Regions from separate parts of the Homo sapiens genome. Here all the other regions are linked to region 1. The links come from fine-mapping of genetic effects on gene expression. A gene starts in region 1. Each other region holds a variant in brackets. All regions are shown on one strand. Distances are from middle to middle.

What was found. PIP is the estimated chance that this variant, and not a neighbour inherited with it, causes the effect. A credible set is the group of variants that fine-mapping cannot tell apart.
Region 2: its variant is the best candidate, but not a certain one, in a credible set for the expression of MADD in monocytes after interferon gamma (Fairfax 2014, PIP 0.54).
Region 3: its variant is the best candidate, but not a certain one, in a credible set for the expression of MADD in whole blood (INTERVAL, PIP 0.72).
Region 4: its variant is the best candidate, but not a certain one, in a credible set for the expression of MADD in whole blood (TOPMed, PIP 0.52).

Annotation. Positions count from the first base shown.
Region 1 is chr11:47,265,133-47,272,033 of GRCh38, reverse strand. MADD (MAP kinase activating death domain) reads right to left here and starts at 1,901. Exons shown (of 37, transcript NM_001376571.1): 1 at 1,788-1,901. It overlaps NR1H3 (nuclear receptor subfamily 1 group H member 3), which reads right to left. Exons shown (of 10, transcript NM_005693.4): 8 at 4,008-4,121; 9 at 3,679-3,773; 10 at 3,001-3,484. The coding sequence ends at 3,338. It overlaps MADD-AS1 (MADD antisense RNA 1), which reads left to right. Exons shown (of 3, transcript NR_120569.1): 2 at 893-955; 3 at 1,054-1,377. RefSeq lists enhancers at 1,842-2,136, 2,610-2,719, 6,502-6,796 and silencers at 1,610-2,139, 2,350-2,459.
Region 2 is chr11:47,381,630-47,388,894 of GRCh38, reverse strand. SLC39A13-AS1 (SLC39A13 antisense RNA 1) reads left to right here. Exons shown (of 4, transcript NR_182308.1): 4 at 5,063-7,265. Among named protein-coding and RNA genes, the nearest start is that of SPI1, 6.7 kb to the right of the region's middle. The variant C/T (reference allele first, on the strand shown) is at 3,936.
Region 3 is chr11:47,326,796-47,333,510 of GRCh38, reverse strand. It overlaps MADD (MAP kinase activating death domain), which reads right to left. Exons shown (of 37, transcript NM_001376571.1): 35 at 6,704-6,715; 36 at 4,807-4,853; 37 at 3,480-4,465. The coding sequence ends at 4,361. It overlaps MYBPC3 (myosin binding protein C3), which reads left to right. Exons shown (of 35, transcript NM_000256.3): 30 at 178-317; 31 at 538-697; 32 at 809-945; 33 at 1,253-1,439; 34 at 1,630-1,666; 35 at 1,795-2,105. The coding sequence ends at 1,640. Among named protein-coding and RNA genes, the nearest start is that of MYBPC3, 23 kb to the left of the region's middle. The variant C/T (reference allele first, on the strand shown) is at 2,200.
Region 4 is chr11:46,951,050-46,958,314 of GRCh38, reverse strand. The region is part of intron 1 of CSTPP1 (centriolar satellite-associated tubulin polyglutamylase complex regulator 1); the gene reads right to left. Among named protein-coding and RNA genes, the nearest start is that of CSTPP1, 18 kb to the right of the region's middle. The variant A/T (reference allele first, on the strand shown) is at 3,618.

The DNA.
Region 1 (6,901 bases):
AATTCTGGCTTTTGATAGTGATATCTCTAGAACACCACCAGGTTTCTGAGCACGCCATATATTCATTTCTAGGTATCACCACTGCTTAACGAACCCAAATAGTCCCTTGGTTCTCCCAACTGCAATAGAGTCATGAGCAAACTGCAGGAGGTGGGGCACTATAACAGAGCCGCACTCAGCTCCTCCTGAGCAGAATCCAAGGGGGAGAGAAATAGAGAAATGAAATGGGATATGAGTAAAAAGCATAATTTGTTTTAATAAAGAATTATGTAGTTAACCTGTCATGGGATTCGAAAAAAAAAAAAGAATTATGTAGAAATGACTAGAGTGAGAGCCAAAGTATCTTAAAGTAAAACAGAATTTATAGAACCAGAGCTCTAGACTACACCTTGCAATCTATGTTTACATTGAAAACCCGGAGCCCTCTCCAACCAAAATCTCAAAGATCAGGCCTGAAGCACCTCCTACTGAGTACGCATCAGGCCTCTCTAGCCTTGGTGGGATCTCAGTCCCTCTCCACTGACAACTATCTGACGAAACTCAAGTCACTCACAATCATTTCCTTCCAGAGCCACAAGGACCCTGAGATCTTGTTATTATTCTAGCTACGGGTGGTAGGATAAATTTTTAGCCAGAGTTCACATCTGATCAGCAGCCACTGCCTTCAGTTATTCAGATTGCAAAGATAACTAAGATTTTCCTTCTCATTCTCTCCTCTCTCCCCTCCCCAAAAAGACTAACACCTTTAACTCCTCTAAAGACTAAATCCTCTAACATCACCCACAACTCACACTCTTGTCTTCACAACCAACGAGGCTCCGACTCTGCCTCTTGCCTCAACCATGTTTACTAACGTAGAGCCTCTGGTTCCTATCTTCCTGTATTCCAAAAGCATCCAGCTCAAAATGCATATCTATCTGCTGAAGTCCGACATCACCATCAGCTCCACCCAGAGGTAGATTTAGGATTCACAAACTTTTAAGTTATCTATGCCTTTTCAGCAGAAATAGCCATGCTAACCAACCCTTTGGATTCGTCCCTCATTTTGGACAGGATCTCACAGTAAAACCACAGGAACCAGAGAGCGATATGACATCTCTGCTGACGTGAACACAACAGGAGGCTCTCCTCCCCTCCTCTACCTCCCCAGGCAGTGACCTTGCAAGCTCATCAGCACAGACTGGTCCAGCGTATGGGAGAACTGGAGCAAGGAGGCTGGCAGCTGGCAGGGTTGGGGTAGAGGGGAGGGCAGGGAAAGGTGGAAGAAGGTAGATACACGAGGATGGGGAGGAGAGCGATTGCAGAAAGATGAAATGGTGTTCTCTCTCCAGCAAGTCAATTTTGAAATATCAAGTTAAAAAAAAAATTTCTTGAGAACCAAACGTGTTTCTCCAAATTCTAGCCAAAAATAAGGCGCAAGCACGCACACGCACAAGCACACCCGCCAAGCGCTGTGCGGGTTCGGCCCCAGGGCTGGCCAGCTCTGCCCGCCCCCTCACCTGCTGGACAGTTCTCCCCCGCCCCCGCCCCCGCCCCGAACCTGAACCCGAGCCGCCCGCTCGGCAGGAACCAAGCCCAGTAGCCTGAGCCCCCTCCTCTGCCCGGGGCGCCCCCATCCCCGTCCCCGCCCCTCCTCGGCAGACCCCCGTCCCCACGCCCCTTCACACTCCCCCAGGGCCTCCTGAGAGACCCCTTCCTCCAAGAGCCACGGTGTCCTCTCAGAGCCCGTCTCCCGCTCGGAGTCCCCAGACGCTCGCCCAGGACCCCACCGGCCCAGACTCTCCTACCTCCCAAGCTCTGGGGGACTGGCCAGGCCCAGCCCGACGTCCCCCGGCAGCGGGGCGTCAGTCGCTCCCCAGCGCGGCGCCGCTCCGAGCGGGCGCCAGTTCCGCGTCTGCACTGGGGGGCACGCACCACTCGCGCGGGGTGCGGAGGGGGAGGCCGGGGCCGGGGCCGTACCATTCAGCCCGGGGGGCCGGGGCTGCACCGAGCCGAGCGCCGCGGGGCGGGGCCGACCTCGGGAGACAGCGGCTGCGCACAGACCTAGCCTAGCGCCCGTGGGCGCGGGAGGGCGCGCCAGGCCGACCCAGCGCCGTCGCGTGCCAAGTGGGGGACCCACAGCAGTACCTTCTGTTTGGGTTGCTCAGAGAGACTCTCACCCGACGGGGTCATAGCGCCCGTTTCGACGACATGGGGATTCCTCTGAAAGTCACTTCCCAAGATAATCGGCCCCTGAGACTTCCTGACGGGCTCCCCATCCCCCAGTCCCCACCCCCCACTCACGCGCTTTGGCGGTGCTCGGCGTCCGAGCAGGGAAGCCGGCTGCCGAGCGGTGGAGCCTACCAATCCTGGGCAGCGGGGGCAGAGGGGGGCGCGCGGCCGCGGTTACCTCCACCGGGCGCGCGCGGGGAGTGGGGGGGCGTGGCCGCGCCGCGGCGCCCGCTGGGAGATGGAGTCCAGTCAGTCCGCGAGGACAGCCCCGCCTCAGGACATCCTCCCCGCGGCCACACGGCTCTTCTCTTCCTGTCCCAAAGGGCCTGGGGACCGACACTGGGTTCTAGGTCTTTCAGGTTGTGCCTTTTTCAGATGCCAAAGGAAAAACCAAGGCATGCTACACATGCACGTGAGGTGCACCGCCGACGCCTTAGCGCTGAAATCCAACACTTCCTCCTCCACCGCAGAAAGGCAACCGGATCCTACCCGGATCCCAGCAGGGGAAGGGGGCGCCTAAGCCTCAGCATTCCATTTACCCATATGGCGCAGTGGGGGTTAGTAAGAAGAGGCCCCCTCTCACGGCCAAGGCTGTCATTTGTGACTCTCCCTCCTCTGGGCCTGGAGGCGGATCCTAAAGATCGCAGGCTTCCTCCTCTATTACCGTGTCCCCACCCCCAATCCAGAAATTGGTTTCTCTCATTTTGTATTCATTTTGATCTTCCTGTTCAAACAGTACCAGACCTATCAGTGAGGCGGCGCTGAGGCATTTATGGCCATACCACAGAGTGACAGTGGAGAATTTTTCTTGGGGCCCTGTGGGAAAAACAGGAAGTGGTGGAGGCAGGATGGGCAGGGCTCTGGAGAACCCTGTGCAAAGTGGCCCCCAGGCCCATCCGTTTGTGGGGTCAGCATGATCTTCAGACACAGCACAGTGTTAGCGAGGGCTCCACTGCTCAGTAGCCACAAAACTCGCAACCCTTTGACTCTCTTTTAATGCCACGGGAGGATCTCCTTGCCCAGCTCCCAGGAATGTTTGCCCTTCTCAGTCTGTTCCACTTCTAGGAGGCAGCCACCAGGCCTCAGCCATCCGGCCAAGAAAACAGAAAATATGGGGACAGAACAGTCATTCGTGCACATCCCAGATCTCAGAGAGCAGCGGTGGGAGCTTTTTGTCCTGCAGACGCAGTGCAAACACTTGCTCTGAGTGGACGCTGCTCAGGGTCCGGAGGCTCACCAGTTTCATTAGCATCCGTGGGAACATCAGTCGGTCCTGGGGAAAGGAGAGAGACAAACACAGCTTTTGCCTGTCCCCAGGGAAGCGGGGCAAGAGTAGGGGAGTTGTGGGAGAGGTGAATTGTCTGCACAGCATGCAGTCAGAGAGAAATTCTTGAAGGGAAAGTAGGTATGTCAGGGAATGGGCCTGTGTGTGGGAAGGAGGAAAAGGAACACCATGGGGAGACTCACATGGGGATGGTGGATGGAGACGTAGGCATGCAGGGCTTCCACATATGTGTGCTGCAGCCTCTCTACCTGGAGCTGGTCCTGCACGTTGGGCCGGTCTATAGGTCACCAAGAGAGTTGAGGAGCAGGTCTGGCCAGGGTCCAGTTCCATACCCCAAATTGCAACCAAAATATAGAGACATGCTCCAGCCAAGCTCTCTCATCCTAAAATAACACAGCAAATGCCTCCACCCTCCCAAGCCACCACCCCCCTCCCCCCACCGATTCCTGTGGGACCTGCAGCCCTCCTTGGTGTAAGTCTCTTGCTGTTTCCCATTGCCCCTCCTCCACACCTGCAGAGAAGATGCTGATAGCAATGAGCAAGGCAAACTCGGCATCATTGAGTTGCAGCTCATTCATGGCCCTGGAGAACTCGAAGATGGGGTTGATGAATTCCACTTGCAGCCCTGGGGAGGAAGAAGGGAGGCTGACGCAAGCAGCAGGAGCAGCAGGAACTTTCTTCTCTCCTCACCTTAGGGAACTATTAGGAACTCACTAAGAAGTTTACTGAGGCCGGGCACAGTGGCTCACGCCTGTAATCCCAGCACTTTCGGAGGCTGAGGCGGGCGGATCACCTGAAGTCAGGAGTTCGAGAAGAGCCTGGCCAACATGGCGAAACCCCGTCTGTACTAAAAACACAAAAACTAGCCGGGCGTGGTGGCAGGTGCCTGTAATCCCAGCTACTTGGGAGGCTGAGGCAGGAGAATTGCTTGAACACGGGAGGCAGAGGTTGCAGTGACCCAAGATTGCACTACTGCACTCCAGCCTGGGCGATAGAGCGAGATTCCGTCAAAAAAAAAAAAAAGGTCTACAAGGCTTTGCTGTGTAACCTTGAGCAAATGTCTTAACCCCTCTATAAGCCTCATCTGTGAAATGGGAATCATATCTGAACCCTTCTCAGAAAATTGTTGGTATAGTTCAATGACAAAGTATGCAGGGCACTTAGCGCTGTGTCTGGCACACAAGAGGTGCTGAATTAAATAATAATTCTGGTATTCTTGTTTTTTTTCTTTGAGACAGGGTCTTGTTCTATCACCCAGACTGGAGTGCAGTGGCACAATCACAGCTCACTGCAGCCTCGACCTCCCGGGTGCAAGCCATCCTCCTACTTCAGCCTCCCTAGTAGCTGGGACTACAGGTGCATACCATCACAAGTAGCTAATTCTTATATTTTCAGTTGTGACAGGATTTCACCATGTTGCCCAGGCTGGTCTCGAACTCCTGGACTCAAGCAATCCACCCGCCTCGCCCTCCCAAAGTGCTGGGATTACAGGCACCAGACACCATCACCTGCCAATTCTGTCATTAAAATTCTTGAGGGCTCCACATTTCTAGAAATAGAGGCAACTCTTATTTTTGTTTATCAAGAATCGTTTTTCAGCAAGGCACGGCGGTTCATGCCTGTAATCCCAGTATTTTGGGAGGCCGAGGCAGGGGGATCACCTGAGTTCAGGAGTTTGAGACCAGCCTGGCCGACATGGCAAAACCCTGTCTCACTGAAAATACAAAAATTAGCTGGGCGTGGTGGTGCACTCCTGTAATTCCAGCTACTTAGGAGGCTGAGGCAGGAGAATTGCTTGAATCTGGGAGGCGGAGGTTGCAGTAAGCCGAGATCACGCCACTGCACTCCAGCCTGGATGACAGAGCGAAACTCCATCTCAAAAAAAAAAAAAGAAAAAGAAAAAAGGCTGGATGCGGTGGCTTATCCCTATAATCCCAGCACTTTAGGAGGCCGAGGCAGACGGATTGCCTGAGCTCAAGAGTTTGAGACCAGCCTGGGCAACACAGTGAAACCCGGTCTCTACTAAAAATACAAAAATTAACTGGGCATGGTGGCGCACCTGTAGTCCCAGCTACTCGGGAGGCTGAGCAGGCGAATTGCTTGAACCTGGGAGGTGGAGGTTGCAGTGAGCCGAGATTGTTCTACTTGCACTCCAGCCTGGGCGACAGAGCAAGATTCTGGCTCAAAAAAAAAAAAAATCCTTTTTCAGCAGGGCACGGTGGTTCACACCTGTAGTCCCAGCTACTCAAGGAGGATCACTTGAGCCCAGAAGGTCGAGGCTGCATTGAGCCATGATTGATCACACCACTGCATTCAGCCTGGGCGACAGAGCGAGACCCTGTTTCAAAGAAAAAAAAAAGACTTGTTTTTCACTGGCATTGGCCTTACTTATTTGAACACTAGAGATACATTTCATGTATCACATCCTCGAGGGAATATTGCAGTATGGGTGAGGATGTGGATTTTGGTGCCAGACTGCCTCGGGTTGAGTCCTGCCTCTACCACTTACAAGGCAGTGTGACCTTGTGTAAGTTATTTAACCTCTCTGGGCTTTGGTTTTCCCATCTGTAAAATGGGAATAATAATAGTACCTATCTCATAAATATGTGGCATATATGGTAACTACCACATAAGTGTTTGTAAAATAAATAAAAAAATTTTTTTTGAGACAAAGAGTCTTGCTCTGTTGCCAGACTAGAGTGCAGTTGCATGATCTCGGCTCACTGCAAGCTCTGCCTCCCAGGTTCAAGCAATTCTCCTGCCTCAGCCTCTTGAGTAGCTGGGACTACTGGTGCATGTCACCACGCCCAGCTAATTTTTGTATTTTTAGTAGAGACAGGATTTCACCATGTTGGCCAGGATGGTCTCGATCTCTTGACCTCGTGATCTGCCTGCCTCGGCCTCCCAAAGTACTGGGATTACAGGCATGAGCCACCGCGCCTGGTCAATAAATAATACATTTTTCTTGGAAACAGTCTTCCTGCTGAGAAGACTAAAATGCAACAAAACATGAGCTAAAGTAATGATACCTAGAGAATGTCTCTCATACACATTGTCAAAGTCTCTGCACCCTACAGAGTTCCCCAGGCTTTGTCAGATTTCTTTTAGCAACCATCTGCTACACTTTTCCATTCAAGGCTTCTTGGTGAGTCACTTCCTGTACTTTCACCCTGATGTTTATCAAGTGTTGTGTGTTGGTCCATTTAATGGGCAGGCCCCATTTTCTTTTTCTTTTTTCTTTTTTTGAGATGGAGTCTTGCTCTGTCACCCAGGCTGGAGTGCAGTGGCGCGATCTCAGCTCACTGCAACCTCAGCCTTCTGGTTCAAGCAATTCTCCTGCCTCAGCCTCCTGAGTAGCTGGGACCACAGGTGTGCACCACCACGCCCAGCTAATTTTTGTATTTT
Region 2 (7,265 bases), 120 kb before region 1:
ACCATGGCCTGACCTGACTGGCCCTGTCTGAGCTTCTGCCACTGGCTGTGCCCCCATAGGCCTCCTTGCCATCTCTGGCTCACGCTCCTGCCTGGGGCATTGGCACTGACTAGTCCCTCTGCCCGGAATTCTTCTCCCAGACATCTGCTTGGCTCGCTCCCTCACTTGCTTCCAGGGTTTGCCGGATGCACCTCTCTTGGTGAAGCCTGCCCTGCCTGCTCTCGTGAATGCTGCAAACTGTCCCCGCCCACTCCATCCCCTACCGCAAGCCCCTTATCCAGCTGCATGCCCTTGTTCCTATGGCGAGTGTCACCTTCCAACATGCAATGAACACTCGCTATCATGAGTTCATCGTGGGTCTTGCCCTGCTGAAGAGCAGGCCCATGAGGGCGGGGATGAAGGGCCCTGCCTGTTTGGGCTGCCTGGCATGCAGAGGCCCCGAGTCAATCATTGTTGAAGGCCTTAATGCACTGAAGAGCCAGCCCAGTGCTGTCAACAAAACTTGGGGAGCTCGGAGGGGCCCAGTTGACCCTGGCTGGGGCCCAGGGAGCCTCTCCCAGTGTCTCAACCATGAGAGGAAGTTGCAAGACTGCCATTTCTGTCCACAGGCTCAGCTCTTTTTGGTCAACTTTCCCAGCTCTTGGTCTGAGGCCTGTGTGTTCTCACATGCCTTGTCACACCCTATGGGGACAGGTTGCTAGGAAAGTGGGTGGGGGGACATTTCCTCATTTTCTAGCTCGTTTGGGCCAAGGCTGAGAGATCTATGAGGTCAGGGGTCGTGCTCCCCTCTGTGGACTCAGCTTTGAGGACACCCCCTCAAGTTTCCTGTTGCCCGCCTGCTTTGTGATTGCATTAGCACCCGGCCTGCCCCTATCATCAACCCAGCCAGCAGGGGCAAAGGGCCACACTACCCTAGGCCTGCCCAGCCTCCCTGTCACTCTGCAAGGCCCAGCCCCTGCAGGGTCTCCCACTTGTCTAGTAGGCTGGGAAGCTGCACTGTCTAGCAGGACTGGTAGGATAATGAATAGGTATAACTTTTATTTTTATTATTATTTATTTATTTATTTTTGAGATGGAGTTTCACTCTTGTCACCCAGGTTGGAGTGTAGTGGTGCCATCTTGGCTCACTGCAACCTCTGCCTCCCAGGTTCAAGTGATTCTCCTGCCTCAGCCTCCTGAGTAGCTGGGACTACAGGTGTGCACCACCACACCCAGCTAAATTTTGTATTTTTAGTGGAGACGGGGTTTCACCATGTTGGCCAGGCTGGTCTCAAACTCCTGACCTCAGGAGATCCACTCGCCTCTGGGAGTGCTGGGATTACAGGCGTGAGCTATCATGCCTGGCTGATACAACTTTTGTTAAGGGCAATGTGATAATATCTGTTTCCAGTCTTATTTTTTTTTTTAAGACAGGGTCTTGTTCTGTCACCCAGGCTGCAGTGCAGTGGCGTGATCATGGTTCACTGCACCCTCATCCTCCAGGGCTCAACCAATCCTCCCATTTCAGCCTCCTGAGTAGCTGGCACCACAGGCACACACCACCACCACCACCACCCCACCAAGCTAATTTTGAAAATTTTTTTAGAGATGGGGTCTCCCTATGTTGCCCAGGCTGGTCTCAAACTCCTGGGTTCAAGTGATTCTCCCACTTTGGCCTCTCAAAGTGTTGGGATTACAGGCGTGAGCCACTGCACCCGCCCTGTCTGTCTATCCATCATCTGTCTCAAAATTAACAATGCACAGAGGGCATAGTGGCTCACACGTGTAATCTCAGCACTTTGGGAGGCCAAGGCAGGAGGATGGCTGGAGGGCAGGAGTTCGAGACCACCCTGGGCAGCAGAGGGAGACTCTATCTCTAAAAAATAAATACAGGCCAGGAGTGGTGGCTCATGCCTGTAATCCCAGCACTTTGGGAGGCCAAGGTGGGTGGATCGCTTGAGCCCAGGGGTTTGAGACCCAGCCTTGGCAACATGGCAAAACTCCTGTCTCTACTAAAAATACAAAAAACATTAGCTGGGCATGGTGGCGTGCACCCGTAATCCCAGCTACTCAGGAGGCTGAGGCAGGAGAATTGCTTGAACCCAGAAGGTGGAGGCTGCAGTGAGCCAAGATTGCTCCACTGCACTCCAGCCTGGGTGACAGGGCAAGACTCCATCTCAATAAAATAAAATAAAATAAAATACATAAATACATACATAAAAATTAAAAAATGAAAAATGCACTGTCCTTTGACCTGGTAATTCAACTTTTGGGAATCTCTCCTAGACATCCTCCCTCCTGCATATATGTAATTTAGCATATGTTATTGATTGCTGTATTATTTGTAATAGCAAAAGACTCGAAACAAATGTCCATCAATAAGTGGTTAAAGCTACTTGGGGGGCTGAGGTGGGAGGATCGCCTGAGCCCAGGAGGTCGAGGCTGCAGTGAGCCATGATAGAACCACTACACTCCAGCTGTGTGTGCAGAATGAGACCCTGTCTCAAAAATACATATATACTGATGAGAGACTGGTTAAATAACAATGGAATGCTGGGTGCGGTGGCTCACGCCTGTATTCCCAGCACTTTGGGAGGCCAAGGCAGGGGGATCACTGGAGATCAGGAGTTTGAGACCAGCCTGGCCAACATGGTGAAACCCTGTCTCTACCAAAAATACAAAAATTAGCTGGGAGTGGTTGCCCATGTCTGTAATCCCAGCTACTGGAGAGGCTGAGGCAGGATAATTGCTTGAACCCAGGAAGCGGAGGTTGCAGTGAGCCGAGATCATGCCACTGCACTCCAGCCTGGGTGACAAAGCGAGACTCCATCTCAAAAAGATAAGTAAATAAATAACACTGGAATACTATCCAGCAATGAAAATGGACCATAGCGACACAGAATAACATGGTGGGGAAAAGAAGAAAGACCCAAAAGGATATTTACACTATGATTTTTTTAATATAAAGATTAAAACCTGTTAAAATAAAAACTGAACTATAAGGGAAAGCAAGAGAAAAAGCAAGAGGCCTGTGCGTTGGCTCATGCCTGTAATTCCAGAACTTTGGGAGGCTGAGGCGGGCAAATAATGAGGTCAGGAGTTTGAGACCAGCCTGGCCAACATGGTGAAACCCTGTCTCTACTAAAGATACAAACAATTAGCCGGGTGTGGTGGCACACGGCTGTAATCCCAGCTACACGGGAGGGTGAGGCAGGAGAATCACTTCAATCTGGGAGGCAGAGGTTGCAGTGAGCCAAGATCATGCCATCGCACTCCAGCCTGGGCGACAGGGTGAGACTCCGTCGGAAAAAAAATAAATAAATAAAAAATAAAAGAAAAGCAAGTAGAAAATTACTGAAAAAGTTAGGACAGTGTTATTTCTAGAGGGAAGTAGGGGACATTTGGGGATTCTTCTGGGGTTCTGGCAATGTTTTTTTGTTGTTTTGTTTTGTTTTTTTTTTTGAGATGGAGTCTTGCCCTGTCACCCAGGCTGGAGTGCAGTGGCGCGATCTCGGCTCACTGCAATCTCTTCCTCCCAGGTTCACGTCATTCTCCTGCCTCAGCCTCCCAAGTAGCTGGGACTACAGGCACCCGCCACCACGCCCGGCTAATTTTTTTTTGTATTTTTAGTACAGATGGGGTTTCACCGTGTTAGCCAGGATGGTCTCGATCGCCTGACCTCGTGATCTGCCCACCTCAGCCTCCCAAAGTGCTGGGATTACAGGCGTGAGCCACCGCGCCCGGCCTTTCTGGCAACTTTTTTATTTCTTTACCTGGATGGTGGTTACATAGATGTCAGCTTTATAATTATCTTTTTTTTTTTTTTTTGGAGACGGAGTCTTGCTCTGTCGCCCAGGCTGGAGTGCAGTGGCGCGATCTCGGCTCACTGCAAGCTCTGCCTCCCGGGTTCACACCATTCTCCTACCTTAGCCTCCCGAGTAGTTGGGACTACAGAC[C/T]GTGCCACCATGCCTGGCTAATTTTTTTTTTTGTATTTTTAGTAGAGACGGGGTTTCACCGTGTTAGCCAGGATGGTCTCAATCTCCTGACTTGGTGATCTGCCTGCCTCGGCCTCCCAAAGTGATGGCATTACAGGCATGAGCCACTGCACCCGGCTGCTTTATAATTATTCTTTAAACTGCACATAAATATTGTATTTACTCTTCTAAATGAACGATGTCTCTCATGACTTAAAAATATCCTGGTAAATCCAAATAGTGGAATACTATACGGCCATTAAAAAGACACTACAGTCAACACTAATTTATAGTGTATTTAAAAATAACTAAAAGAATATAATTGGAATGTTGGTAACACAAGGAAATGAAAAATGCTTGAGGTGGTGGATACCCCATTTACTGATGTGATTATTACACAATTTATGCCTGTATCAAAATATCTCATGTACCCCATAAATAAACACACCTACTATGTACCCACAAAAACTATAAATGGAAAAAACTCAGAAGGACAAGACAGTGCTACATGGGTGTGACATGTATATTGGGGAAAAAAAACAAGGGAACTACAATATGTTTAATGTGCCCCCCTCTGTGTAAAAAATTTTTTTCTTTCCTTTTTTTTTTTTGAGACGGAGTCTCGCTCTAACGCCCAGGCTGGAGTGCAGTGGCACGATCTCGGCTCACTGCAAGCTCCGCCTCCCGGGTTCACACCATTCTCCTGCCTCAGCCTCCCGAGTAGCTGGGACTACAGGCGCCCGCCACCACGCCCGGCTAATTTTTTGTATTTTTTTTTTAGTAGAGATGGGGTTTCACCGTGTTAGCCAGGATGGTCTCAATCTCCTGACCTCGTGATCCACCCCCCTTGGCCTCCCAAAATGCTGGGATTACAGGCGTGAGCCACCACGCCCGGCCCCCTCTGTGTAAAATTTTTAAAAATATATCTGCTACACGCTGTGTAGATGATTTCTAGACCAAAACACAAGATCAGGTAACAAGTGGGCTAGTCTGTGGAAGGGGAACTGGGCAGTTGTTTACCTTTTTTGTACCTTTTGAATTTTGTACCATGTGCACATGTTATCTATTCAAAAAATAAAATAATTAAAAATGATGTTTTTGTTTTTCAGTCCCTAGAGCGTCCAAGATTTTTGGTTTCAAACCAATTTCCTGCTGACCAGAATGAAATGGAGCCACATTCCAGCACGATGCACCTGCTGACCTCCTGCAAGTCAGGGACCTTCTCTGCCCCTCTTTTGCTCTGCTGCAGGAGGGAGAAGCTGGGAATGTGTTCCTCTGGGGTCCCATCACCTCCAGCCAGCCACTGTCCCTGTCTCCCCAAAACCTCCTCGTTGTCCCTCCTCTGTCCTCCTCCTCCTCCATCTGCCTTCGCCCTGCTCTCCTCTTTTTCGCCTGAGGTTCGTGCTGCCTCCTCACCTCTTGTCCTGTTTCTCCCTTCTCTCTGCTCCCTCCTTTGATCTTGCTATTTTGCTTCTCTTTCCCTTCCTCTCTTCTCCTCCCTCCCCTTCCTCCCTGCTCCCTGCCTCAGCTTCTCAGTCTCTCTCCGTTCTTCCTCTAGCTTCCTTCCCTCCCCAGAAGACCCAGCCCTTCCTAGAGCCCCAGAAGCCAGGGTTCATGCCCCAGCTCTCTACCCACACATGCTGTGCAACCCTGGGCCAGTCACTGGTCTCTTGGGCCTCAGTTCAACAGATGGCTGTCTTGGTGATGTGAGATCATAGGGTGGAAGCACCCAGAATGGTGCCAGGCACTCAAAAATTTTTTTCTTTTCCTTTTTAAGGAACTACTAACCGTGAGGTTATGGATTACCAAACCGTTCCTGTTCTTGGAATCTGGGTCCTACTATTCCCAAGAATTTGAATTACCACGGGTCCCTGGGGATGTAAGGGGATGAGGCTTCTGATGTACTTTGGGAGGGGGAGGAGTGGAAAGAGGAGTTGGGAGGACACTCTAGCATTGCCCAGAGGGCAGAGGACATTCTGCCTATTTCCAGAGGTTATTGACCCTGGATCTCTTTTATGGAGTTCCTCACCCAGGCCCCTTGAGCTTGGCCATACTTGAGGCAATGGGATATCTTCCTTCTCCTGGAGCCCCTTGAATCTTAGGCCTCGGGAACACACAGTCTACTGTGTTTCTTGGCTGCACCCACGGAGGACAGCCCCCATACTCCTTGCTTACAACCAGCAAAGACTCCACAGCCATCCCTGCACACGACTCAGGCTCCTTGGCTTGGCACTCAAGGCTCTTTGCTTTCCTGTCCTGCTTTGCTTCCAGCTGCAAAGATGGTGGCTTCCTGTTTTCCTCTTCGTTTCCTTTGCTTAAGTTGATTCTCAGCCAGACATGCTTTCCCCCTGCACGCTTCCCTAAGCCATCCTATCTGGGACCCTGACCCAATCAATGGTTCCCTAATGCACCTTTGAGACCAAGTGTACCTGGCACCTCCTCTCTTGCCCCACTATCTGCTCACATGACCCTCTGCAGGCCTGTAAGCTGCTGGAGGCTCCGAGTATGCCTCATTCATGTCTATCCCCCTTACTAGGCCCAGACCATGGAAGACACTCAATAAAAAGTAAGTGATTAAATGACAACCTCTACGGAAAAGAGTATGGAGATTTCTCAAAGAACTAAAAACAGAACTACCTTTTGGCCAGATGCAGTGGCTCACACCTATAATCCCAACATTTGGGAAGGCTGAGGCAGGTGGATTGCTTGAGCCCAGGAGTTCAAGATCAGCCTGGGCAACATGGTGAAACCCTATCTCTACAAAAAATACAGAAAATTAGATGAGACTACAGGTGGCACACATCCATAGTACCAGCTACTCCAGAGGCTGAGGCGGGAGGATCGCTTGAGCCCAGGAGGTCCAGGCTACAGTGGGCCAAGATCACGCCATTGCACTCCAGCCTCAGTGATAAAGTGGCATTCTGTCTCAAAAGAAAAAGAACTGGCCAAGCATGGTGGCTCACGTCTGTAATCCCAGCACTTTGGGAGGCCGAGGCAGGTGGATCACATGAGATCAGGAGTTTGAGACTAGCCTGGCCAACAATGATGAAACCCCATCTCTACTAAAAATACAATAATTAGCTGGGCGTGGTGGCGGGCGCCTGTAATCCCAGCTACTCAGGAGGCTGAGGCAGGAGAATCATTTGAACCCGGGAGGCAAAGTGAGCCAAGATTGTGCCACTGCACTCCAGCCTGGGCAACAAGAGCGAAACTCAGTCTCAAAAGAAAAAGAAAAAGAGAGAAAAGAAGAAAGGAAAAGAAATATCATTTGATCCAGCAATCTCACTGAGTATCTAACCAAAGGAAAATAAA
Region 3 (6,715 bases), 62 kb before region 1:
GCTGGGCTGCTGGGGCCAAGGGTGGGGCCAGGGGACCCAACCCACAGCTCACATTTTCCAGTCCACTGCCCCAGCAGGCCTGGCCCTGGTTGGCAGGGGTGGGGTGGTCCCTGGAGCCAGTGACCCCCTGCTCACTGTCAGGAGGCGTGGTGACCCAACTGGGTCTGTCTCCCGCAGACAAGCCAAGTCCTCCCCAGGATCTCCGGGTGACTGACGCCTGGGGTCTTAATGTGGCTCTGGAGTGGAAGCCACCCCAGGATGTCGGCAACACGGAGCTCTGGGGGTACACAGTGCAGAAAGCCGACAAGAAGACCATGGTGAGCCCAGGGTCTGGGGTCCCCACGTGCACCCTGCCTAGGCCCGGCAGACCCAGGCCGCAGCTACCCTTCACTGTCCTCACCGTGGACCCCTCACCCTCCCTCTGCTGATCTGAATCCCTCCATAGTAGGGGTGGAGATGCCAAGGGCACCCAGGAGAGGCTCTCGGCATCAGGAAGGGCCTGGCCCAGAGATGCCTCCCCTCCCTCCCTGCCCCCAGGAGTGGTTCACCGTCTTGGAGCATTACCGCCGCACCCACTGCGTGGTGCCAGAGCTCATCATTGGCAATGGCTACTACTTCCGCGTCTTCAGCCAGAATATGGTTGGCTTTAGTGACAGAGCGGCCACCACCAAGGAGCCCGTCTTTATCCCCAGACCAGGTGCTGTACCCTCATTCTTCCAACCAGGGGCTGGGGCAGGGAGGCTGTGGGAACAGGGAGAGGGGCCTAGCTTTGTGTGGCCCTCTCGGTACCAAGTCCTGTCACCAACAGGCATCACCTATGAGCCACCCAACTATAAGGCCCTGGACTTCTCCGAGGCCCCAAGCTTCACCCAGCCCCTGGTGAACCGCTCGGTCATCGCGGGCTACACTGCTATGCTCTGCTGTGCTGTCCGGGGTAGCCCCAAGGTAGGGAACTTTAGGCGCTGGTCCAGGCCGACCAGGAGGCAGGGCTCACAGGCCCCGACGTTGAGCAGTCCTCTCCCCAGCCTGTCTCCCCTGCTTTCTCTCCACCTTGGGGTGTATGGACCGGGTTCCTCCCCCTGGGCAGGGCCATGGTACTCACTCTTGGTTCCATGTTTGTTTCCAGCCTTGGGCATAGTCAGGGACTCTCGTGGGACCCCCCGAGTAGAAACACAGATGTGTCTCCCTGGGTCCCTGCCAGGTCCCCTCTCAGCCTGGATGGCTTCCCTCCCTCTCTTTACCTTATTTATAGCCCAAGATTTCCTGGTTCAAGAATGGCCTGGACCTGGGAGAAGACGCCCGCTTCCGCATGTTCAGCAAGCAGGGAGTGTTGACTCTGGAGATTAGAAAGCCCTGCCCCTTTGACGGGGGCATCTATGTCTGCAGGGCCACCAACTTACAGGGCGAGGCACGGTGTGAGTGCCGCCTGGAGGTGCGAGGTGAGGAGCCCTCGGGGCCAGGGCCTGGGAGATGGGAAGAGCGGGCGGCAGTGGGGACCCTGGGCTTTGCTCCGTTGTCCTCGGCCAAGCACCTGCCCTGGCTGCAAGGGCACGGACCCTGCCACGCCCAGATGGGCAATAGCTTCCAGAAGGCTGGGAGGACACAGTGACATGGCCTCCTCTTCTGCAGTGCCTCAGTGACCAGGCTGGCTCCTGGGGATGGCCAGGTATGTACCACCCGACACCCAGGGCACAAGTCAGTGGCTGAGCCCTGGCCCTTGGTCCTGGGGCAGCCATCAGTAAATGGGAGGCTGTAGGGGCCCTCCATTCACTCGTAAGATAACCTGTGTTGCAGGTACAACCGGATGCCAGCCCCGTGCCAGGAGCCTGGAGGGAAGTTGGGGAAACCCCTCCCTACTGTTGGATGTATGTGTGACAAGTGTGTCTCCTGTGCTGCGATGGGGGATCAGCAGGGCAGTTGTCGGGCAGTCCTGAGTGGGTGTTGCACAGACTGGTCCACAGGGCTCCTGAAGGAAGCCCCTGGATCTTTGGGGTAAAAGGAGGGTGGCCTCAAGAAACAATGTCTGGGGACAGGCCTTTCTGGCCTGCTATGTCTTCCCAATGTTTATTGGGCAATAAAAGATAAGTGCAGTCACAGAGAACTCACTCTTCTCAATTTCGGTGTGCCTGTTTTCATAAAAATGCACAGGGGATGGCCAGGTGCGGTGGCTCATGCCTGTTATCCCAGCACTTTGGGAGG[C/T]GGAGGCGGGCCGATCACCTGAGGTCAGGAGATCAAGACCAGCCTGGCCAACATGGTGAAACCCCGTCTCTACTAAAAATACAAAAATTAGCTGGGCAAGGTGGCGCGCCTATAATCCCAGCTATTTGGAAGGCTGAGGCAGGAGAATCACCTGAACCCAGGAGGTAGAGTTTGAGGTGGGCCGAGATCATGCCACTGCACTTCAGCCTGGGTGATGGAGTGAGACCATGTCTCAAAAAAAAAAAAAGAAAAAAGCCCAGGGACATTGATCTTCACAGCAAAGTGAGAGCAGATACTGTTTTTTGTTTTGTTTTCCCGATGATTAAACCAGGCCCAGAGTGGTTTCTGAGTTCATAAAACATTAACGCTAGAAGGAACCTGTCTTCCCCTACAGCATTCACTCTTCAGATGATGAAACTGAGCTGTGACAGCGGAAAGTGCATTTAACTGGTCCCAGGTGCTCAGCGTGATCCTTGTGCCAGGGGCCGTGGTCACAACCGCCTGGAGGTGGGGTGAGGCAGAATCTCAGTGTTGTGATTGTGCTGGGGTGGAGCTGCACTAGGTGGCTTTGGAGTCCCAGCCAGCAATAAGCCAGCAGCGGGTTCAGACCCATATCCCCGGTGGGAGACAGCAACCCAATCCAGTCCAGGACGCTGGGCACCAGAAAGGTGTCAGGGCCAGGGCCCCACTCTGCTCTCACTTCCCCCATGGGGAGCCTAAATCCGAGCATCTGTTTCCTTTTGGGCGCGGGAAGCCAGCAGGTCTCAAATTCCCTGAGAGTGCAGCCAGGTTTTTCCAGGACAGAATTCCATGAAGGCAGCTCCTAGGGGAGCTTCTGGGAGTTCTATGCAGTGGAAGACACTCCTGGCCAGGAGTCCGGGGCCCTGTGGGAGGCCCTGGCTGAATCACCACACCTCTCTCGACCATACCCACCTGTAAGGGAACGGAGAGGGCCAGGGCCTTGGCTTTCTTTCACTTAATCTCAGTTCAGGTGAGGACGCCCAGTCTGGCTGCTCCCTCTAGCAGCCTGTTCATTCATGGCAGCCCAGCTCTCTGCAGGGCCCTCAGGTGCCCAGGAAGGAAAGCTCCTCCCGCAGCCTTGCTCTAGGAGCCCAGAACAGGGGAGCTGGGGCCTCCGTGTGCCAAAGCTTGGACATGGATGACCTCATCTCCTTCCTTCCTTCCAGCCTGAGGTGACTTTTTAGAGTCCAGGGATAGCTTTCCTCAGGCCTGAGCCAAGAGGAGGTGTCATTTAACACAAGGCAGCCAGGGAGCCTGAAGGGAGTTGAGGACATTTATTTCACATTCACACAACTGTACATTTTCTATAAATAATGTGGGGCTGAAATATTTACAGTCATTTCTTGCCCATACCCAGGCTGTCTCTCCCTCCTGACACCCCGTGCCTGGAGAGACAGCCTGCAGACAGATGTGCAAACCCAGCTTGGTCTTTCCTGCCCCCTCCCTGATGCTCAGGCAGAGCAGCCAGCGGTCCCTGGGACTCCACTAGCCTCGACCACTCCATCCTCTGATGCCGAAGGCATGGCAGGCCACAGGGAATTCGCCGCTCCACTGCAGTCACAGAGGCTGTGGCAGGCAGCAGCCAACACTGCGGGCCCTGGGCAGTAGCTGCCGGCTTGGGAATGCAGAAGGAAGCAGGGAGGCTGCCACTCACTCCGGCTGCCCCCCAATTCTTCCCTTCCTCTCTGTGCCCTTCCTCTGAGAGGGTGAGCCCCAGGGTTCCCTCACTCCTCACAGAGTGAAACTGCTCCAGGCGCCCAGTCATGCCGGGTCACAGAGAAGGGAGAGCCAGACTCTTGCAGTGGACAGTTATAACGCCAGGGACAAGGACAAGGAACCACAACACAAATGTCTCAAGGACACAAAATAGTGGGTTCACACCGGCCCCACAGACTGTACACATTCTTGAGCCCTGAGGGGAAGGCAGTTTGGTCTTCTGGGAGTGGAGAGGGAGAAGGTGGACACGCTCAAGACACACTCAGAGGGACACATAACCGGTAACCAACCAAGCCACAGCAGGGGGCTTGCAGAGGACACACGAGCATCATCCACTCCTCAGTCACAGCAGCATCGTGCACTTGGGAACAGCAAGGGGCCAGGGGCGTGCCCTGGGCTGGGGCAGCTGCGTAGCCCCTCTCCATCAGCTAGAGACAGGCCGGGGCGGGGTTCTGAGATCTTCCTCACTGCTATGAACTGCAGCCACGTACGAGAAGAGACATAATACGGAGTAGCAGATTTCGTGGGCCTAGAGGAGAGAAAACCAGGCGGATCACGATACTGAGACTCCTCCATCTCCATATGTGAAGGATCTGCCAATGGGCAACTCCTGCCCTAACACTGGGCATGGGCCTCTGGGCTAAACGTGAGCTCCAAGCAAGGAAGCTGTCCCCATGGGAGAGGGGATCCGTGTGTGTGTGTCTGTCTCTCAGGGCTCAAGACCTGTTTCAGCCTGAGTTGAACCTTTGGCAACAAAACGAGGTCCCCACTCACCCCTGTGCGCTCAGAGGGCCCTCCCCTCCTCCTGTCCGAAGGTCCCCCAGGGAGCCCTGCGCACCGTGGCCCATCAGGGTTGAGCGGCACACTCACCATTGGTGTCTTGTACTTGTGGCTCACCACTTCTTTAATTTCAGGAACTAAAACCGGACGGGCAAGAGACAAAACAGAAAGTTCAACACTAAGAGCAATCGTGCCATGCTCCCCCAGGCGGCAGCGCCCGGCGTCAGGGTCCCCTTCCCCTCTGTGGCCTCTCACAGTGGCTGCAGCAGCTTAGGCTATGACAGGGCAGAGGCCACCAGAGGCTCTGTCCAGACTCTGCCAGCTGGGAGGACATGGCCCTAGCCTCCTCAGCTAGGCCTCTGTCATCCGCAGTGGCGTTTACTTGATGGCCGTGATTCTACCCACTTCTTTGAAAGCCCTGGATGGGAGGGACGGGCCTTTCACCAGCCTGGTCACAGCTACTGTCCAGGGCCCCTGAGGAGCTGCAGTGGGGAATTCCCAGGTTTTGGCTGGGAGGAGAGAGCTCTCTCTAGCTTGTGTCCAACTTTGCTGAGACACCCGTGAACTCGTCACCAGCCTGAAAATTGGGTCATGTTAAACACAGTTCCCGTTATTCCCAGCCCCCTACACAGAGGGTCTTGAGGCTGGATGAAGAGGTAACATGATATAAACCCACAGGATGTGGCAGTGTCCTTCCCTGAGTGGCAGGAGAAGCCCAGACCTGCCTGTGTGAGGGAGAGCGTCTGAGGGCTCTGGAGCAACACACCCAGCAGAAGACAGGCGAGTACAGCACCCAGGGAGGGAGGTGACAGGGAGCATCAGGCAAAATACACACATGTCCACAGCCCAGAAGGCAAGAGTGAGAGTCCCCCCGCTCCAGCCATGCAGGGGTTCTGCTTGGCCAGAGGAAGGAGTAGGCCCCCCAGGCTCAGCCACCATCATGGCCCCTTGAGACTGGGAGCAGAGGGGCCTGGCATCTCCCTGGGGGCCAGAAAAGGCAGGAGGAGAATTGGCCGTACCTTCTTCTGACCCTGGGAGGTAGAATTTGGGGGAACCCAGGGTCAGCAGGGAATAAACTCATCAAAGGTAGAGCAAGAAGCCCCAGGCCATTCTCCCGAGTTGGAAGATTCCCCCAAGTATCTCTCTGACAGAAGAGAGAAGGGAACACACGGGGAGGAAAGTCCAGTGAGCCGGTGAGAAGGGGGAGGCAAGGTAGGAAGAAAGAGGGTAGGGGAGAAAGGAAGAGACGAGCTGGCAGTGTGAGGAGCTGGTTCGATGGGAGCTACCCACCCAGGGCAGGGCCCAAGGCAGAGACCTGGGGAGAGGCAGCACGAGCCGAGGTCACTTTACCTGCTGGAGAACGAAGGTTTTCATAGCAGCGATGAGGGGCACAAAAGAATGAAGCACAAACACAGCAGGAACTCAAAGCCCCAGGGTGAGAACCCACTACACCACTCCCTAGCGCTGGCTCCCAGCTTCCGGCTACAGCTGTCCCGCTAGACTCCTCTGTCCCTCAAGTGAGTCTGCCTGCGACGCCCGGTGCCCCTTTGTCTGGCACAGAGGCCAGGTGGAGACCAGAGCGGCGCCAGGGAGGCTGGCTAGCGCACTGGGCTGCTAGAGAGATTGCAGCAGGTGACATGGACATAGTGGAGCTTGGGGGTCGCCAGTCTGCTGTGTCCCAAACTTTCTGACCACTGGCTGGCCCAGCACGGGGAGGTGGTGCTACTTCACTGAGCTGCTTCAGGACCACCTCTAAACTCGAAACCCACCTGAGGCCCCATTTGCTCTTCTGCGATCCATTATCTATCTTTCCCTTCCACATCCCGGCTCTCATCTCAGGGGTCCCTTTTCTTCCTTGTCACTCCTGCTCCTCCTGACTTCTCTACAGAGGTTCTTCTTCTCCCTGCCCCTAGACCCTCCTCTGGAGCTCCGAGGTTTGAGTTACTGCCATGTGAGTCCAGACCTAAGAGCAAAATAGTGTAATTACCAAATTCCTCCA
Region 4 (7,265 bases), 310 kb after region 1:
TTAAGAAAATTATGGGGCCAGGCGTGGTGGCTCATGCCTGTAATCCCAACACTGTGGGAGGCCAAGGCAGGAGAATCACTTGAAGCCAGGAGTTCAAGACCAGCCTGGACAACAAAGCAAGATCCCATCTCTACAATAATAATAATTTAAAATTTAAAAAAAAGAAAATCACAAGGAGAAAATATATTTACTATTCATTAAGTGGAAGTAGATCATTCATTATAAAGGTCTTCATCGTTGTTTTCACACTGAATAGGCTGAGGAGGTAGAAATGGAGGGGGTTGATCTTACTGTCTCAGAGGTGGCAAAGAAAATCTGTGTATAAGTGGATCACACAATTCAAATCCATGTTGTTCAAGGGTCAGCTGTATATCTATATAGCTATGTATCTAGGTCTTTACATATCCTATTAGTTCAGTTTTTCTGGGGAACTCTGGCTAATACAATAGATATTTTTGATATTCAACAAAAGGATTGGAAAGGTTAAGGATATTCATATAACATACAAAAATCAAAAAAGACAGAAAAGAGAAAACAAGAAAAATTAGAGCATAAATCCATAAGTCCAATGTCTAAGTAACAACAGTTCCAGAGATAGAACAGAGATGAGACAATATTAAACACATAATTCAAGAAAACTTCTCAGAACTGATATACATGAATTTCTACACTGAAAGGATCTCAAGACAATGAAAGAAGATCCACACCAATGTAAAACTACATGAAATATCACAAATCAGAATGGCATTAGATCACTCAATAGCAATACAGAAAGCTAAAAGATAGGGGAGAAATGCTTTAAAAATTCTAAGGGAAAATTATCTCCAACACAGAATTTTATATGTATCTAAACTATCAATCAAGGGTAAGGGTAGTATAAAGTCATTTTCATAAACAGAAGATTCCCTAAAATATTACTTTGCATGCACCCTTTCTCAGAAAGCTACTAGAGGATGCAATCTAATAAAAAGAAGGAACATGTAAGGAAAAAGGAAGACATAGGCTTTAGGAAATATGCACTAAAACTTACTTAAGCAAGACAAGTAATATCCATGTAAGGATGAAGAATGAAGTAATACCCATGATAAAGATGAAGGATTTAGAGAGCAACCAGGCCAGACTGAAGCAGGGGGACCAGTTAGATGAAGAAGTACTTCAGAAAAGTTACCTTGAAGAAAAGAAATTGAAACTGAGAGGATGCCTGATGTGTTTGAACTGACCTTAGGCTATAAAGTCTGGGGCACAAGTTCATCGAAAACCATGCACAAAAGGAAAGGCAATTATTAATTGCAGGAAAATGAAAAAAAATGTTCAAAAAGGAGAAATGTAATCATAGTATACTATATTATATATATTTTACATATATATGTTGTATACTGTGTGTATATATATATACATATATACTATGTATACGTGCATACATATGTATAATTTTCACAGTCATAATAAACACTGAATATTGATTTAACCAAAAATTATAATAATTTTGTTGGAAGACTAGGAAGAAGGGAAATTGAGTAGTATAAGAGACCTAAATCCTCATCTTCTATAATATAAAGTCATTAAATAATATCTAAAACTGAAAAATCAAGAAGAGCAATTTAAGCATGTTATTTTAAAGTACACAGCAAAAAAAAATTGTTTTTAATGCTGAAAAATTTGAAAATGGCCTCCTCGAAAAAGGGGGTTTCGTTTACATGCTGTGAGATCACCGCAAACCTACCTCACTGTGTTGAAACGGGACAAATACAATAGAACGCATTGGGTGGTGTGTGTCTGATCCTGGGTTCTTGTCTCCCCTAAATGCTGCCCCCCAAGTTACTGTATTTGTCTGGGCTTTGTAGGACTTCACTAAGTTGATTGCTAGGTGGCCTAGTTTGTGTAAATATAATGTATTGGTCTTCCTCCGTGTTCTTTGGGGGTTTTGTTTACAAAGTTCTTTTTGTATTGAGAGAAAAATAGCCAAAGCATCTTTGACAGAAGTTTCTGCACCAGGCAAAAAGATCTGAAACATTAGTTTGGGGGGCCCGCTTCTTAAAGTGGGGATCTTGAACCATCCTTTCTTTTGTATTCCCCTTCCCCTATTACCTATTAGACCAGATCTTCTGTCCTAAAAACTTGTCTTCTACCCTGCCCTCTTTTCTGTTCACCCCCAAAAGAAAACTTACACACCCACACACATACACATTTAATGCTTGGAGTGTCTCCACAACTCTTAAATGATGTATGCAAAAATCCTGAAGCTAGGAAAACCCTCCATCCCTTGTTCCCAACCTCCTAAGTCAAGACCATTACCATTTCTTTCTTTTTTTGGTGGGGGGGGGGGGGTGGATGGAGTCTCGCTCTGTCGCCCAGGCTGGAGTGCAGTGGCATGATCGGCTCACTGCAGCCTCTGCCTCTTGGGTTCGGGCGATTCTCCTGCCTCAGCCTCCTGAGTAGCTGGGATTTCAGGCACCCGCCGCGCCCAGCTAATTTTTTTATTTTTAGTAGAGACGGGGTTTCACCGTGTTGTCCAGGCTGGTCTGGAACTCCTGACCTCAGGTGATCTGCCCACCTTGGCTTCCCAGGGTACTAGGATTGCAGGCATGAGCCACCACGCTAGGCCGACCATTTCTTCATGTATTCATGCCAAACACTTAAGACACTGCTGTAGCCTGGGCGCAGTGGCTCACACCTGTAGTCCCAGCACTTTGGAAGGCTGAGGCGGGCGAATCACAAGGTCAGGAGTTCAAAACCATCCTGGCCAACACGGTGAAACCCCGTCTCTGCTGAAATACAAAAAAATTAGCCAGGTGTGGTGGCGCATACCTGTGGTCCCGGCTATTCAGGAGGCTGAGGCGGGGGAATCGCTTTAACCTGGAAGGCGGAGGTTGCAGTGAGCTGAGATCGCACCACTGCACTCCAGCCTGGTTACAGAGCAAGACCCTGTCTCGAAAAAAAAAAAACAAAAAAACAACAAAAAAAAAACCACACTACTGTATTTTGGATGGATCAAACCTACTTACTTTTAATTTCTAATCCTAAAGTAAAGAGATGCAATTGGGGGCCTTCCATGTAGAAAGTGGGGTCAGGAGGCCAAGAAAGGGAATATGAATGTATATCCAAGTCACTCAGGAACTTTTATGCAGGTGGTAGAAACTTATGTCAAAGTGGCCACAAGATTGTTTAATAGGAGATGAATGAATGTAACTCCATGTTTACTGCTAGAAACCAAAGCTTTGTGTAAAATCTTGAATTTATGGGGAGGGAGGGTAGGAAAGCCTGTACCTGTCTGTTTTTTTCCTGATCCTTTTCCCTCATTCCTGAACTGCAGGAGACTGAGCCCCTTTGGGCTTTGGTGACCCCATCACTGGGGTGTGTTTATTTGACGGTTGATTTTGCTGTACTGGGTACTTCCTTTCCCATTTTCTCATCATTTTTTAACACATGCTGACTCTTCCCTTCCCTTCTCCTTTCCCTGGGAAAATACAATGAATAAATAAAGACTTACTGGTACTCAAAAAAAAAAAAAAGAAAGAAAATGGCCTCCTCTGAGGAGTGAGACTTCGGGGTGAGAAGGTTATGGTGTAGGGTACTGCTTTTTTTTGTTATAACTCTTATAGACCCATTTGATTTTT[A/T]AAATTCTGTAGTTAAGAAACATAAACATCAAAAACTTTAAATCCAGCAATTCTTTGAACTTTCTTCAATGGAAGAAGTGGAATTTTGCGCTCTCTGGATTCTCCCTCTTCTTTTTTATTTTATTTTTTATTTATTTATTTATTTTTTCAAAACAGAGTCTCACTGTGTCGCCCAGGCTGAAGTGCAGTGGTACGATCTCGGCTCACTGCCACCTCTGCCTCCAGGGTTCAAGCGATTCTCCTGCCTCAGCCTCCAGGGTAGCCGGAATTATAGGCACCTGCCACCATACCCAACCAAATTTTGTATTTTTAGTAGAAATGGGGTTTCACCACATTGGCCAGGCTGGTCTCGAACTCCTGACCTCAAGTGATCCACCAGCCTCAGCCTCCCAACGTGCTAGGATTATAGGCATAAGCTACTGCATCCAGCCGAATCCTCCCTCTTCTTATGCATTATTTGTGACATCATGTTTTCCTAAAAGAGTTTTTCAACTGTTTCTTCTAATTATTATTTTGTAATGCTTTTGTATTTTTTCTTTTACCAATTCCCATAGTCAACTTTGCTCCTGTTAGCATTCTTAGTTACTTCTTTTTTTAAAATGATTTATGCAGCCTTACTTCACATGCTTTAATGTAGCTCAGAATACTTGTACTTGGCCCTAGTCGAGCTATCTTTCTTCTTTCCCCCAGTAGCTAATACAAACTTTCTTTGCTCTCCTCAAGCCTTTTACTTCTGCTTCCCTAACTCTAAGAAGATAATCTTGATTCTTACTTCAGACAAAGAAGAGGTCATCAGGTAAAGAACACCAATTTCTAGCTCCATTTCTAAGTTTAACCATGTCCTTCATCACCCTTACTTCCCACCTCTGTTGTTCAAATTTAATTACGCCATGTGAAGCGGTTTTAAGATCACCTTAAGACCTGATTTCTCACTTGGGAATTCTTCCTAATTGAGAAAATTCTTACTTATGAATTGCTTTCAAATATGGCAAAATGTCTGTCAATATTACATGTAATAATGAAAGTTGACATTATATTGTTTTATACATATATAATAAAACATATATCCATACTTTAGGGTTGATAAATTTTTTTTTAGGTCTCAAATATTTTCAAAGATCCCATAACAGTTTGTTGGTTAGGCACCACACAAACAGTGCCTTCTGGATAAATATGGTCCTGACTCCCAACTTCAAAATAGCCTTGCACCTCTGCCTTTGATCCTAAATTTCCTCGTACTTCTAAAAATGTTCCATCAAGTATTCATCATCCTTTCCTTCCCTTGGATCTTCCCTCTCTCCCTGTACAATGGTTCCTTTCCCTTCAGCCTAAAAACATACTCAAGTTTCTCCCATCTAAAAACTAAAAACAATAAACTCTCTCTTCCTCCTCTTGCTATCACCCCCTCTCCTCCTTTCCCTAATTGGTCAAACTTCTTGAAACGAATCTAGCCTATTCTCAACGCCTTCACCCTCCGATTTACTCTTCAATCCAGCAAAATCAGGCATCTTGCCACACTACTCCATGAAAACCTCCCTTAATGCCACTAACAACCTGCCTTGCAGCCCGTATCTTCTTTGACCTCTCTGAGGCATCTGGTATCATTGAACACTTCCTCCATCTTGAAACTCTCCACCCCCACGTCCCCAGTGTCTGTGGCACTGCCTTTTTCTCACTCTCCTCCTAAATCTCTTACAAATCACTCTCCAGTCTAGGAAGATAAATATCTTTCTTTATTGTAAAACTAGCTCTCTGGAAACAAGATTTTGGTTTCTACAATGGGTCTCTAACTCTCAATAGAAAAATAAAATTATTTAGCAGCAAAGTTACCTCCAACGCCCAGCAACAAACCAATTATAAAGAACTAAAAATTCTAAAATTACATGTTCTCACTAAGGTGAACGACTCACTAGAGTATAGAGAGGAACTATTCTGATTATTGGAAATGTTTACAAAGGACAGGAAGTGACACAGAGAAATGACAGGCAACATAAAGTTAAGAAAGAAAATAATAACCATTGTAAAAAGGGAGCAACTGAACTCAGAGACAGGGACCAAGGATAAAATAACTTTGTACTTCAAGAGGTAGAGGACAAAAACCAAATACTGACCAGCACATCTATGCTTCACCTGTGAATAAGGGCAAGCAGCTACCAACAATACAACTTGCCTTGAGTAGGGTAGATGTCTCCACCGCATATACTAGGTATGACAGATTTTTGTTTGTGTACCACCAAAAATACACTGCCATTCTTCTTGCACACGACTGTCCATTAGACTAAAATTCCCTGCCTCGTTGGCAGTTAGCAGGGACCTTATTAAGTTCTCACCTATGAAATGTGAGCACAAGTGATGTTTGCATCTTCGGCTTCACTTGCCTAAAAGGTCCTTGCCCTGGATTCACTGTTTCCCCTTTTACTGGCTGAAAATGGCTACAATTGAGGCAGCTTTGGAAACCATGTGTTTCAGACAGAATGACTGCTCTGCTAGCTGAAATCCAATGATGACTTCCTAAAGCAGACCCTGCCTTTCACATCCTGGATTTGGATTAAGTAAGAAAGAAAGAAAGTGCTTCTTGTATGAGCCATTGCACTGGGAGGGAGGGGGAGTTAAGTGGTGGAGGTTTTTTGTTTTGTTTTGTTTTTATAACACCAGCTCAGCCCTCACCCTAATACCCTGAGAGATTAGGAGCACCAAACCACCTGAAGCGCCAAACAAACCTCAGTAGACCTCAACAGCTTACTGACTCAGTAGGAAACATTAGTCTGGAGAGAAGGGAATGGTAAGTACTGGTGTGGGAGCAGGGAGATGTCTTCTTATTAATTAATAGCTATAAATTAGAATTTAACACTGAGTGGCACCTAAACCACTTAATTTCAAATTAGAAGAATTAGAATCAAATAACAGCTTCACTAACTGCTATCTATATAAATGGAAAATTTACTTAAGTTATTTGAGCCACCATTTCTTCTCATGCATAAAAAAAATAACATCCATCTTCATGGGTAACTGTTATAACACATTTATAGCACAATATAATAAATTAGGTCTAAAATAATGACACTACCTCACCAAGAAAATGTTAAATTATCTTCTATATATTAAAACAATCTGGCAGGGTATGGTGGCTCACGTCTGTAATCTCAGCACTGTGGGAGGCCAAGGCGGGTGGATCACCTGAGCCCAGGAGTTCGAGACCAGCCTGGGCAACATAACAAACAAAGAATTTAAAAATTAGCTAGGCATGGTAGCACACTCCTATAGTCCCAGCTACCTGGGAGGCTGAGGTGGGAGGATCACCTGAGCTCAGGAGGTCGAGGCTACACTGAGCCATGATCATGCCACTGCACTTCAGCCTGGATGACAGAGTGAGACCTTGTCTCAAAAAAAAAAAAAAAAAAAGAGTCTAAGGAATATATCATATATTCTGTAGAATTTTCTACTGAATTTAAGTTCTGACACTTAAATTTTTATTGAACTGAATGGGAAAGAAGGCTCTTAGAAATTACAAAACCTGAAAGAAAGTGGCTAACAATACTACTGGCTTTAGAGTCAGATAAACTTCATTCAAACTTCAGCTCCAGACATACTAGCTCAGTGACCTTGGACAAGTTATATAACTTAAATCCCAGTTTCCTCAAAGAAAAG